4 linked regions of the Homo sapiens genome follow. The protein of the gene in region 4 purifies or fractionates together with the protein of the main gene of each other region. This does not show direct contact. Each region holds a gene or a part of one and is shown on either strand. Other genes may lie near its edges.

Evidence for each region.
Region 1: the proteins of ZC3H13 (region 4) and NUP93 fractionate together in Homo sapiens (co-fractionation; one large-scale study listed by BioGRID). This does not show direct contact.
Region 2: the proteins of ZC3H13 (region 4) and ZFP91 fractionate together in Homo sapiens (co-fractionation; one large-scale study listed by BioGRID). This does not show direct contact.
Region 3: the proteins of ZC3H13 (region 4) and MED13 purify together in Homo sapiens (affinity purification with mass spectrometry, with the first as the bait; one study listed by BioGRID). This does not show direct contact.

The regions. Positions count from the first base shown.
Region 1 is NC_000016.10:56,733,129-56,736,628, forward strand, and holds part of NUP93 (nuclear pore complex protein Nup93), read left to right. Parts: intron 1-3,500. UniProt on the Homo sapiens protein: Plays a role in the nuclear pore complex (NPC) assembly and/or maintenance. May anchor nucleoporins, but not NUP153 and TPR, to the NPC. During renal development, regulates podocyte migration and proliferation through SMAD4 signaling.
Region 2 is NC_000011.10:58,606,563-58,610,062, reverse strand, and holds part of ZFP91 (E3 ubiquitin-protein ligase ZFP91), read right to left. Parts: intron 234-3,500; coding exon 24-233; intron 1-23. UniProt on the Homo sapiens protein: Atypical E3 ubiquitin-protein ligase that mediates 'Lys-63'-linked ubiquitination of MAP3K14/NIK, leading to stabilize and activate MAP3K14/NIK. It thereby acts as an activator of the non-canonical NF-kappa-B2/NFKB2 pathway.
Region 3 is NC_000017.11:61,967,779-61,971,278, forward strand, and holds part of MED13 (mediator of RNA polymerase II transcription subunit 13), read right to left. Parts: intron 481-3,500; coding exon 257-480; intron 1-256. UniProt on the Homo sapiens protein: Component of the Mediator complex, a coactivator involved in the regulated transcription of nearly all RNA polymerase II-dependent genes.
Region 4 is NC_000013.11:45,965,747-45,969,246, forward strand, and holds part of ZC3H13 (zinc finger CCCH domain-containing protein 13), read right to left. Parts: coding exon 3,002-3,500; intron 2,283-3,001; coding exon 1,758-2,282; intron 1-1,757. UniProt on the Homo sapiens protein: Associated component of the WMM complex, a complex that mediates N6-methyladenosine (m6A) methylation of RNAs, a modification that plays a role in the efficiency of mRNA splicing and RNA processing.

The DNA.
Region 1 (3,500 bases), on a different chromosome or scaffold from region 4:
CCCCAAAGAATAGAGAATTGCTAGGGTATATAATTGGGGGAAGGCAGCGAGGGATGAGGATAGTAAGGGTGGCAGTGTCTGTTCTATGGAGAGCACCCTTTATAGCTCTGTCAAAACATGAGCATCTTATTCTGTAGGGGATGGAAGGTGTCCCTGATGGACTTAAGGCAGGAAAGCATTTCAGAAAGACCTCCCTGACCATGGGGAGGTTGATTGGAGGAACAAGAAGGCTTAGTCGGCGTGCAAGTCAGAGAAGGGGCGAGAGATGAGGGTATGACTTTGCAAAAGGTTTGAGAAGTAGAGCTTGAGATTGGCTGAGTGTTGAGGAGGTGAAAGGGGCGCTGGGGTGACTTGAAGGTGGTTCCTGGCTTACCTGACTGTGTGCTAATTGTTTTACGAAAAGAGACTGGGAACCCACGAGAAGGAAGCATTGGTGGTGGCAGTGGCTAAGGAGAGAGAAGTGATGAGTCTGATTTGGGACATGTGTAGTTTGAGGCACCCATGAGTCATCCAGGTGTAGGTATTAGGTGGACAGTTGGAAATACTGGCTTGGGAAAAGAGTTGGGCTGGACATAGAGATATGAGAATCCCCTTTGTTTTGATAGATTAGAGTCCTCCTAGCTCACTTATTTGCCTTGTATTAATGTCTGTTAATACCTCCATCTCTTCTCCCCTGAATAACATAACGTTTGAAATATTTTATAGCTTTATACTTTTTTATAGCTTCAACTGTGTCCTCAAACAGCTAGATCCCCCATACACAGTTGCTAAAAGCCAGAAGAAACTTTCTCAAACCTTGCCAAAAATTCCTACATTGATCTGTTAGGTACACCAAAGTTATAGTCTTCTCTTCCTTCCTTCATTCATTTAACACATATTTATTGAGCATTAGGTGCTGTTGTTCAGTGTACTGGGAATGGGGCTGTGGACAGACCAGACAAGGTTCCCAGACTCAAGGAGCCTGTTAGGAGACAGACAATAAATGAACAAACAGGTAGGCATGTGATGCCAGAAATTGATAACATACTACCAACGAGGTAAAACAGAAATGTGGTAGAGTGGACGGTGGGGCTGCTTTAGCTGGGGTGTGCTGAGAAGCTTCTTTAAAAAGGAAACCTTTGAGCAGAGATTTGAAGGAATTAAGGGGGTTAGCTAGGTAGGTATTTTGGAGGAGAATATTCCTGCAGATGCAGAGGAAACAGTGACTGAAAGCCCAAGTCAGCAGTGTATTTAGCATATTTGAAGAAGAGTGGAAGGCCATAGGACCAAAGTACATAATCCTGGGGAAGAGTGGTAACAGAAGGAGTTGGGTCGGGGACAGTCATGTAGGCCTCACAGCACAGGGTAAGGACTTTGGATCTCAGCCTGTGAGTGACGGGGGCTATTGAAGGTTTGAGCCCCTTTAGAGGATCCTTCCCAGTGTGGTGTGGAGAACAGACTGGGAAGTGGGAGGGGACAAAGTAAGAACAGGGAGACAGGAAGCTACTATATCACCCAGATGTGACACATGAGAGTGGCTTGCACCAGGATGATAGTGGTAGAAGAGACAAAAAGTGGGTCTGACTCATGTATATATGAATAAATGTAGTGTAGAAATGAATTGCTAATGTAGGGTATAAGAGGAGAAAAGAAGTCAAGGACAATGCCACGGTTTTAGACCTGAGCAACTTCTAGCATGAAGATACTATTTACTGAAATGAGGAAGATGGGGAAGGTCCAAGTCTTTGTTAGATGCTAGAATACGGCCTTCCTCCCCCTAACCCCTCCCACTCCATGCACCCTACTGTCTGTGCCCATCTCTATCTTTCTGACACGGCTGTTGCCCTGCTGAAAAACCTGTGTACCAGTTGGTCCCTTTGGACACCAGAGGTCTGCTGTGAGGATGACATTAGATTATACAAATAAAGCCCATAGTGGGGACTCATACACAGACAGAGCTCAGGAGATGATGTCGGGCAAATAAATGAATGGAGTAAAAGGAATTTAGATGAGGGAAACTTTCTGTAGGTAATGTGTATTGAGGAAGACCATTTGGTAGGTAGGACTTGAGTTGGTGGTAATAATGATAGCTAATGTTTATTGAGTGGTTACTTTGTGACAGGTGAGGGAGATGCAGTTATTTTTCCATTTCACAGATGAGGCCCAGAGAGAGTAATTAATTTGCCCAAAGTCATCGAGCTAAAGAGTGAAGGAGCTGGCTGGAGCTCAGGGCTGCAGTGGAAGGTTGGGTAGGTGTTTCTTTTTGGGAAAAATGGCACAGAGCAGGACATGTGCAAGGATAGTCAGGGACCAAGTAAATCAAGTGACTGGTACACAAGGTTTATTCTGGGAGGTAGAAAGTTAAAAGCAGTGACTCACCTGGATGGATCCCTGTGAATGGGAGCCAGTGAGGTTTTTTGAGCAGGGGCAACAGCCGTGTCAGAAAGAGAGATGGGGTCGGGCGCAGTGGCCCTCGCCTGTATTCCTAGCACTTTGGGAGGCCAAGGCGAGCGGATCACTTGAGGTCAGGAGTTCGAGACCAGCGTGGCAAACATGGTGAAACCCCAAAAATTAGCTGGGCATGGTGGTGCGTGCCTGTTATCCCAGTTACTCGGGAGGCTGAGGCAGGAGAATCGCTTGAACCTGGGAGGTGGAAGTTGCAGTGAGCTGAGATCTCATCATTGCACTCCAGCCTGGGGGACAAAAGTGAAACTCCGTCTCAAAAAAAAAAAAAAAGGAAGCTAGAGGTGGCCACAGAGAGTAGGGTGCATAGAGTTGGGGGCAGGGCTAGGAGGAGGAAGCCCATGTTCTAGCATGTAAGAAGGACTTAGACTTAAAGGAATGAAGGTCTGGCCTTAGGTGGTAGTGATGGGGATGAAAGCAATAGTTAGAGGATGTTGCAAAAATATAAATACCCCATGCTATTTAAATCTGTTTAGGAGCTGGGTGCAGTGGCTCACGCCTGTAAGGCCAGCACTTTGGGAGGCTGAGGCAGGCAGATCACCTGAGGTCAGGAGTTCAAGACCAGCCTAGCCAACATGGTGAAACACCATCTCTACTAAAAATACAAAAATTACCCTGGCGTGATGGCACGTGCCTGTAATCCCAGCTACCCAGGAGACTGAGTCAGCAGGAGAATTGCTTGAAACCGGGAGGTGGAGGTTGCAGTGAGCTGAGATCACGCTATTGCACTCCAGCCTGGGCAACAAAGCGAGATTCCATCTCAAAAATAAATAAATAAATAATCTGTTTCGGTAATGAGAGTTTGGAGAGTGAGGAATATCATGTTATCTGAGTCTGTAGTATTTCGTTTCCTGAGTTTTAGTTAGAGAGTAGCAATAGTTTGGATAATGAGGAATACCTGCCTGCTTGCTATGGAAAAATGTATCTACATGTGTTTGGTTTCTGAGTCTGAGAGTGGAGGGACACCTGTAAGTAAACAATCTGAGGTAACACAGAGATGCAAAGGAACAGGGTGAGTTAGAACCTGGGAGACAGAAGCCAGGGGCAGAGGCGGAGGA
Region 2 (3,500 bases), on a different chromosome or scaffold from region 4:
GCCATATTCTAGTTGCACTGTACCATAATCAAGTTGGTCTGTATTTGGTTCTGACTTGCAAATGAGCTGCAATGAACCGGTCTTGGACCGAGAGCTTCGGGTGTTCTCTGTATCACGATGGCGAGAAACAGATGTCCTACTACTACGCCAGCCCCGGCTAGGTCTAGATGCAGCAATGGAAACTTCCTGAGGGAGGGCAGAATCGTCTTCTTCCTCTTTTTCTTCCTTGGGATCTAAATAAAAAGACATACCATTCTCTTTAAGTTTACAGTTAACCAATAACCATCCCTGTATATCTACTAATTGTAAATACAGTTGAAGATAAATTAAATATTTTCAAAGGAAAAAAAACTGAAGACTTTAATTGAAATAATAAAAAAAGGAAAATGAGATAAAACTTATCCTTAATGTCATCATGCTAAAGAAATTACTTCATGTTGCAAAGTAGTAATTTTATACTGCCTTATCTTCTAAAAAATGCAATGCTAACTATGCAAAATACACTTAAGTAACTGGATTCATGAAATTCTACCTTTTAGATCTAAGTTAAAAGAAACTAAATTAATTAGTCCCAAAAAGATGACCAGAACTACAGAGGCACCAAAAAGAAAGAACCATAGATCTAGATGTTATTTACAACCAAACAAGTCTATAACAAATTACTAAAGAGGAATTCCTAACAGGAGTACTTTTCACTCTAATCAAGAGTTTTTCTTGGAACCACACCATAAATTTGAACTAATCTATAGAGCAATTGAATGGTAAAGTCCAGCTCTGGTGCTATTCTGTTTCAGTTGTCCTATAAGACATTGTGTACAGGAGCACACACAAATCTGTTATTGTTATCCTATATTTTGTCATGTTTTAAGGGTGAAGTACGGTAGGTCATCCTCTCTTGAGTAGTAAGTAATAAAAAGTTAATCTCAGAAACTGGCTTTCATACCTGGCGTAGCTAAATACTTAGACCTATATAAAAAAAAAGTACATTAGAATTGAGCCCATTTTAACAATAGAAGATTCTTTAATAAACTCAGAACGGGAAAGGCCCAATAATAAAACAAAATTTCAGGTCATAAGATACACATAAAAACAATTTTCCTCATGGCAAAAATCAACCATAAACAAAGTCTAATAACCCAATAGAAAAATAGGAACTAACAGGCCGGGCTCAGTGGCTCACACCTGTAATCCCAGCACTTTGAGTGGCCAAGGCGGGCAGATCAAAAGGTCAGGCGTTTGTGACCAGCCTGGCCAACGTGGTGAAACCCCGTCTCTACCAAAAATACAAAAGGTAGCCAGGCGTCGTGGTGCCTAACTGCAATCCCAGCTACTGGGGAGGCTGAGGCAGGAGAATCACTTGAACCCGGGAGGTGGAGGTTGCAGTGAGCTGAGACTGCGCCACTGCACTCCAGCCTCGGCGAAAGAGCAAGACTCCATTCCAAAAAAAGAAAAAACAAAAAACAAAAGCTCAAAGCTCAATCCACTCAGAACAAGAGACTCAAATGAAAACGATAGCATGACACCATTTTTCATGTATCATATTGGGGATGATCATATTTGACAACATAATGTATTGTCAAGACTGTGGGAAAACAGGTCCTCTAACACACATATGATAATGTATTAGCAAAACCTCCATGCAGACCAATTTGACAATATACATCAAAATTATAAATGTATATACCTTTCCACATGATGTTCAACTACTAGAAATTTATCCTACAAAATTACAATCATATTTATAAATGATTAACATATAGCACTGTTTTTAAGTAGTAGAAGAGTAGAAAACAACATTCAAAGAGGGATTGGTTTCACAAATAATTGTGTACATATGTAAGAGAGAGATATATATGTAAGATATATATACACACAAATATATAACTTATGAAACCAATCCCCCTTTGAATGTTTAGTTGTCTACTCTTCTACTACTTAAAAACAGTGCTACACATTAGTCATTACAGTATGTGTGTGTGTGTGTATATATATATATCTTACATACTATAATAACATTTCTGGAAGAAGTACAAGAAATTCTTAAGTACTGGTTACTTCCAAGGTAGGTCCAAAAATATGTGTAGTAATTTCACCTTTAAGTATATGCCCTAGAAATATAAACTACCACATGGAGGTTAACTGTATTATGTTTATAATAGCAAAGAACAGAAACAACCTAACCCTCTGTCAAAGATAAAGTGCTTAAATAAACCATGATACCTTAGTATGATTGAATACTATATAGAGGTAGGTTTATGTTAAAAATGACATGGAATTATCAGCAAAAATATTGTTAAATGTATAAAAAAGACACAAAACTATATATACAGTATGGCAACATTTTTGCTTAACATTAAAAAATAGTTTACTATGGAGCAATGTGGTGACTATAGGCTATTTTAGCTTTAATTACACTGAAAGTTTTATGACAATATACTGAAGTAATGAAATTAGTTTGAAACACAGAGATAAATAGCAGTGCGAACAGTTCTAAACAACCATCAAAATCAGTTGTGCATTTCCTTTCAGCTGTCTTTTTCCATTCATTATTGCATCACCCTCCTATCTGAGCTATTTTAATAGAAAAAATAAAAAATAAAACATTAATATAGGTGAAAATACCTCAAAGGCCATTCAGTCTAAGCACAATCCATTACGTTTTACCCATAAAGTATCTGGAAGCCCAAAAAAGAAGCTTATTCAAAATCACAAGGTTAGCTAAGGACACCTAGATTTAGAAATCATATTTTGAGATTAATAATGAAGGACTTTTACATATAGGTCATGACTACTTTTAAAACAATTTCATCAAAAAGAACAATTCAACACCACCTATGAAGTATTACAACATTTAATAATAGACACATCTTTTTTTTCCTTAACCCAACTGTACCGAGTTGGACTTTGAACTCACTCCATAACCTCCTGTCCTCAACAAAGCTCCTTTCTTCTTCATGATGAAAGGATGGTATGCCCACAACCTCCTATACTGTAGATTTTACTCACTGGATAAATGATGCCAATTTGATAACAATAGTTTACCATTATGAATAAGGCATAATAGCCTATCTTATTGAATACTACTGCTCCCGTCCCCTAAAAATCTAGTCTTAAAAAAAAACCACTCTGTCAGAGATGACAGCAAAAATGTCCCTCCACAGAAATAAACACATATCATGAACAAACACTGTCAGAATCAACTTTGTGGAAACTCTTAACAATAGTTAAAGGTTATAAAAGCCAAGTGAGCACTGAATCAAGAAAAAGGTGAGTAAAGATGTTTAAGGAAATCTGTCAAATCACTTGATGAATATAAGCGAAAGGACCAGAACCTTTAGAGACCACAGAGACCAAAGTAGGAGCTAAACATTAGGTACTCATGGACATAAAGATGGCAACAACAGAAACTGGAGATTATTGGGGGGAGGTTGAAAAACTATTGGGTACTATGCTCAGTACCTGCATGATGGGATCATTTGTATCCTAAATTTCATATCATA
Region 3 (3,500 bases), on a different chromosome or scaffold from region 4:
CATTAAAAGGGATATATATCTATATGCCCTCAATGTTTCTTCCTCCTATAGGGGGATAGCCACTCTGACCCACGGCATACACATCTAACAGACTGGGTCAAACTCAGCAAAGAATGTAACTGGCTAGTATGAGAAATAAACATCTAATCTGACATCATCACTGTGTCCCAATCAACTGAACTGCCCAGTATGCTGTATATACAACAATACAAATCGTAAGGTAGTTTTAAAATGTCATCTCTTTTTAAACACCTACCTCATATATTGCAGTAAGATCTCTAAAAAAGCTTTTTGCTCCATTTAACAAGGCTTCATTTTCTGGACACAGTACAACATAGGCTATATCTCTTTGAGATCCATAGGGTTCCAGCATAAGTCTCTCCCAATAAGGAAGAGCAAATGGAGAAAGCACCAGATAATCATAATCATAACCCAACAAAAATGTGGGGATTGGCAGTGGTTCTGGGGATTCATCAGTTCCTAAATAAGAAAGATGTATTTTAAGAAAACACTTAAAAACAAGACATGTCTCCTTTTTATTTATTTATTTATTTATTTATTTTTTGAGACAGAGTCTCGCTCTGTCGCCCAGACTGGAGTGCAGTGGCGCCATCTCGGCTCACTGCAAGCTCCGCCTCCCGCGTTCACGCCATTTTCCTGCCTCAGCCTCCTGAGTAGCTGGGACTGCAAGTGCCTGCCACCACGCCTGGCTAATTTTTTGTATTTTTTAGTAGAGACGAGGTTTCACCGTGTTAGCCAGGATGGTCTCGAGCTCCTGACCTTGTGTCCGCCCACCTCGGCCTCCCAAAGTGCTGGGATTACAGGTGTGAGCCACCATGCCCGGCCTCCTTTTTATTTAAATGTCAAAAGTTAATGAAGTCATTATTAGTGAAAATATTTTATTAGAGACAAAAATACTTAATGCCAGTGGTCAAGACTTTTCAACATTAAGGAATTTCCTAAACAAGTCTTTTTATTTACTTATTTTTTTGAGACAGGGTCTTGCTCTATTGCCCAGATTAGACTGCAGTGGAACAATCACGCCTTACTGCAGCATTAACCTGCTGGGCTCAAGCAATCCTCTGTCCTCAGCTTCCCGAATAGCTGGGACTACAGGTGTGTGCCACTATGCTTAGCTAATTTTTAAAGTTTTTGTAGAGATGGGATCTTGCTGTGTTGCCCAGGGTGGACTCAAACTCCTGAGCTCAAGTGATCCTCCTTCCTCAGCCTCCCAAAGTGCTGGGATTACGTGCAGGAGCCACCACGTCTGGTCTGCATTTAAATTTTTGGCATGGGGCTGGGTGCAGTGGCTCACACCTGTAATTTCAGCACTTTGGGAGGCCGAGGTGGGCAGATCACCTGAGGCTGGGAGTTTAAGACCAGCCTGACCAACATGGAGAAAGCCTGTCTCTATTAAAAATACAAAATTAGCCGGGCATGGTGGTGCATGCCTGTAATCCCAGCTACTCAGGAGGCTGAAGCAGAATTGCTTGAACCCAGGGGGTGGAGGTTGCGGTGAGCTGAGATTGCACCAGTGCACGTCAGCCCAGGCAAAAAGAGCAAAACTCCATCTCAAAAACAAACAAACAAAAAATTGGCATAAAAATACACTGTAGGCCAGGTGCTGTGGCTCATGCCTGTAATCTCAGCACCTTGGGAGACTGAGGTGGGAGGATTACTTGAGCCCAGGAGTTTGAGGCCTAGGCAACATAGTGAGACACCATCCTTATTTATACATTTAAAAATAATATAATTTAAAAAATAGAAAAAAGAAAAAACCTTACTAAGAGCGCAGATCTCATGTTAAGTGTTCTTTCTTTTAGTTTTTTTTTGTTTTGTTTTTGAGACAGTCTTGCTCTGTTGCCTAGGCTGCAGTGCAGTGGTGCGATCTCCACTCACTCCAACCTCCACCTCCTGGGTTCAAGCAATTATCTCACCTCAGCCTCCTGAGTAGCTGGGATTATAGGCACACATCACCATACCGGGATAATTTTTGAATTTTTGGTAGAGATGGGGTTTCACCATGTTGGCCAGGCTGGTTTCAAACTCCTGACCTCAAGTGATCTGCCCACCTCGGCCTCCCAAAGTGCTGGGATTACAGGCGTGAGTCGTCATGCCTGGTGAGTGTTCTTACCATAATAAAAAAATTTTTAAAAGAAAATGACCAACAACCTAATAGAAAAATGGGTTAAGAACATGGAGATTACAAAACAAAACTATCTCTAACACATAAAAAGATGCTCTTTCTCATTAAAAAAGCAATTTAAAATTAATAATAGCAAACAATGATAATTCTATGTGCTAGGTACTGTTCAAAGCTCTTTGCATGTACTAACTCATTTAATCCTCACAAAAAACATAAGGCAGAAACTATTATTAACTTCATTTTAGAGATGAGAAAACATAAATGAGGAAGTTAAGCAATTTCTCTAGCATTTCACAAGAAGTAGCAGAGTAGGAATTTAAACCCAAGAAATCTATCCCCACAGTCTGTACTATTTAATCTCTCAAACTATAATGGGAAATAACCATTTTTCATCCACTGAATCAGCATCCTACTAGGCAAGGCTTTGGGAAAACAGGCACTTTAACTGGTGGGAATTCAAACTGATATTACAGGGGCTGGGCATGGTGGCTCACGCCTGTAATCTCAGCACTTTGGGAGGCCTAGGTAGGTGGATCACTTGAGGCAAGCAGTTCAAGAACAGACTGGGCAAGATGGCAAAATCCCATCTCTAGTAAAAATACAAAAATTAGCCAGGTGTGGTTAATGCATGCCTGTAATCCCAGCTACTCGTGAGGCTGATGCATGAGAACTGCTTGAACCTGGGAGGCAGAGGGTGCAGTGAGCTAAGATCATGCCACTGCACTCCAGTCTGGGCAAGAGAGTGAGACTGTCTCAAAAAAAAAAAAAAAAAAAAAAAAGGCATTACAGATAGTTATTTAGGTTTTTTTTTTTTTTTTCTTGAAATACACGTCTGGGTGCTTATAATCCTAGCCCTTTGGGAGGGTGAGTTGGGCAGATCACTAGGGCCCAGGAGTTGGAGACCAGCCTGGGCAACATGGCAAAACCTCATCTCTACAAAATATACAAAAATTAGCTGGGTGTGGTGGTGAGCACCTGTAGTACCAGCTACTTGGCAGGCTGAGGTGAGAGGATCACTTGGACCCAGGAGGTTATGGCTGCAGTGAGCCATGATTGTGCCACTGTACTCCAGCCAGGGTGACAGAACAAATCTCAAAAATAATAATAATAAATAAAATAAAAATACACCCATGCTTTAAAGCCAGGGATCTGTGCATTACTGAAAAGTAGCTGTAATGATAATGGTGGTAACAATTTGTATGTTCATAAACACTGCACTGGTAAAATATATTATCATATGTAAGGAACAATGGAATACATATAGCCATAAAAAAAGATAATCTCTATATGTGCAGATAGAAATGATCTCCAAAATCAGTTAAGGTACAGAAATAAATAAATAAATATCTACTTT
Region 4 (3,500 bases):
TTGATAATTTAAAACTTTAAAACTCAGACAAATCTAACTTCAAAAGATTTTGAAGTTATATTTTCAAATTTTCACAATTTATCTAAACAAAGTAATTTAAAAACTTGCAAACATTTAAAAAATTTACTCGAAGCTTAAATCTTAGTTCATATTATTTAGCTCATTATATAAACTTTACAACAGTGAGGTAAAAATACAAGAAGTGTCTAATTCTCTCTCAACATCTCAATTCCTCCTCCCTATCTCAATGATCTTCTTGCATTGATGAACACAATTTTTAGAAAAATGCTTTAATACAATTAAAAATAACTTTGTTAGTTCCACTAGTGTATGTTCTATTTTTTTATTTTACCAACTTTTTTCAACCACCTATGCTAAACTTTGTCTCTTGGTGAGTTAGTTGTGAACTTAATCCTAAAATTACAGAATACACTTAACGTTTACAATCACTAGCTAACCATACATTTCACTGAATCTACAATACTAAGTTTCAAAATGTAACCATATGCTTTATGGGTATGAATTTGCAGCAAATAAAATATAAGAAGTTATGAGATGTTTCTAGTCATTCTAGTGATTTTCCATGTTATTAAATTCTATAATAATCTCCCCATATCCTCACTAAGTCACTTCTAATGTAACCAATTTTAGTAACTTTGTCATATAAACATACATCTAAACATAAATGCACATAATAGGATTTTCAACTTTTCAAGTTGATCCAACTCATTTTCCTACTTTGAGTAAAAACTTTACATCACATAGCAAGTGATTCACCTATACATTTCTATTCTATATTATCTGTGATCATAACCAGCAAATTATATATTTTAGAGATGAGGGATACTGACTCCAATCACAAGAGAGCTATTATAATGATTAATTCAATTATATTCAATTATATCCCAGGGTTGTACCTCCATCAGAACCATGCTTTATGATTTGATGCTATTTATACTCAAAATTGAGATGAAAATGTAATGTGAAGAGATGAATTTGAAACAGTAAGTGCCTCGAGCAGAGAAGGCTTCATCGAGAAAATAATGTATAAATTGGGACTTGAATTTTGAGTAAGAAAGATGAGATAAAAGAAAAAGGTCTATCAGGAAATGGTATGAGTGGGTACAAAGAAGGGCAGAGAATGGAAAGGCATGAGTCAGCTTGTCTAGTAAATGGGGGCTGAAGGGTAAAGAACAGAAGCATGGAGAGTGAGGTTTCACATAGCTGAGGCTGGCTCTGAGTTGATGCGGACTTAGCATTCCTATTCTAGGACTAGGGAGTACCAGTGGGATTCTAGTCAATCCTACATTAAATACAGTTTTAGGTAGTGTTATTGTTTCATATATTTGTTCTCAACTGCCCTAGAAAATAGGGATTCACTAATAATTATTTGAATCCCTCTCTGAACTAAGAAGTCATTTCAATTTTTGTAATCTTATTTTTTTAACATCTAAGAAAAGGATGTGATGGTTATTCTTCAACATCTATACACACTGCATCTAAACAATCTTTTATTTCATTTAGGTTTATGTGAACCAAATCTGCCTTAATGGTACTGCTAAGGGGACCACATTAAAAAAATATATATATCTCTATCTTACAGGCCTTTTCCTTCTGAAATCTACTTCCTCTATAGAAGAATGGAGAATGGAGTCAATTTGCCCATTAGTGGGTGCCCTTTCAAAAGAAAATAGTTGTTTCCCACGAAATCTGAAAAGAAATAAAGCAGTATCACAGACAACAGAGGTAGCACTCACCTTCCAGACTCTCAGTTCTCTCGGATTTATTTGTTTCTTCAAATCCCTGCACAGATCCCAGATCTTTATCCATTCTCTCTTTATCCAAGGCTAGAGAGTCTCGGGAAGTGCTTTCTAGATCCCTTTCATGTTCACCTTCCAGTTTTGCTTCACAGCGTTTCACAGACTCTATTTGAGAACTCTCAAAAGTTCTGTCTCTGTCTCTGTCCCTGTCCCTTTCAACAGAATCAGAAATTAGTCTCTCTCTTTCCCTATCCAAGTCTCTCCTTTTGTCTCGTTCTCTCTCTCGTTCTCGTTCTCGCAATCTATCTCGATCCCTGTTGCGTGGCCAATCTTTATCAGCATCTCGGTCCCATTCTCTCTGCCTCGTATCTCTCCTCTCTCTCTCGCGCTCTCTGTCGTGTTCATATCGATCTCGTTCTTGAAGCCTGTCTCTGCTATCAAATGACCCAGATCTTGAATGGACCTGTCGATCTGACTCTGGAGAACTTCTTCTTGAACTATGGCTTCTTGAATCCTGGCGATCTAAAATAAATATACCATATATAAAGAGTTATTAGCACATGATAAAATAGAAACAAAATGCTTCATTTCAAGGTCCTTTAAAACATAATTTACCTTTTTCCATATTCTATGTAACTTTCTATGTTCCATATTGTCTCTATATGTTCTATATATTTCTATATTCTACATATACATTTCTCTCTATAAATATCCAAATATATAAATCATTTTAAGAAAAATTCCTCTCTCAAAGTTCTAATAAATAAAAAAAAAAGTTTCCTTGTCTATTTCCACTATAACCATAAAATATCTTCCAAGAAGTACATAAAATGATTAGGCATTAATAGAACTAATCACTCCATTATTTGATCTCCTCCTACTCCCCTATCTTATTTTCTGTGGTCAAAAGAGGCAGCCTTGACTGCATGAAGAATAGCAGGAAGGTTAAAATCATAGGCATCAATAAGGGACTTGAACACATAAACCCTTCCACCAAGACATACTACTAAAATCCTGATATTAAACTGATTAACACTACTGTATGTATTTCTATTATAATGTTGGTATTAATGTGATAACAGGTAACATTTTGATAGGGCAGCTAAACTTTTCTTTAAAAAGTTGCATAAAATTTAAGGCAGCATGTAAAGTAACCAATTTAGCATTACTTTAGAATTAAAATGTGTATAAAATATACTAACCTAGGAAACAGTGACTAGATCACAATTCAATTTTATTACCTGAAGAAGTACTTCGACTGGGTTCTCCACGCTTTAACTGATCAATCCTAGATTTTCTCTCTCCTGTGATTTCCAGGCTTTTTGTTTTTTCTCTATCTCTTGAGCCACTGTGCAGTACTCTCTTTCGACCACTTTGGTCATCTCCACTTCGATGGGCTGAATCATTGGATGGGGAGCGAAGACGACCAGACGTATGACTACGGTTACTCCGATTGCTCCCGAGGCTGCTGCTCCTCTTTTGATCCATAGGCTTGCGATGCTGTGCATCTTCTATAGTCACGTGAGGCGTCTCTACTTTTTCTACTCGTGTTCTGTGGCATTTTCTGTGTGAGTCTTCATTGGCAAAAGTATTATTGGTGGTATTGGTGGGGGTGGCAGAGGTGGAAATAGTGATGGCAGATGTGCTGAAAGAGGTGGCGGCAGCAGCAGTAGTGGCAGCAAGAGTTGCAGGCACAGTTGTAGCAGTGGCAGTAGCCACAGGCGGTGGAGGAGGAAGAAG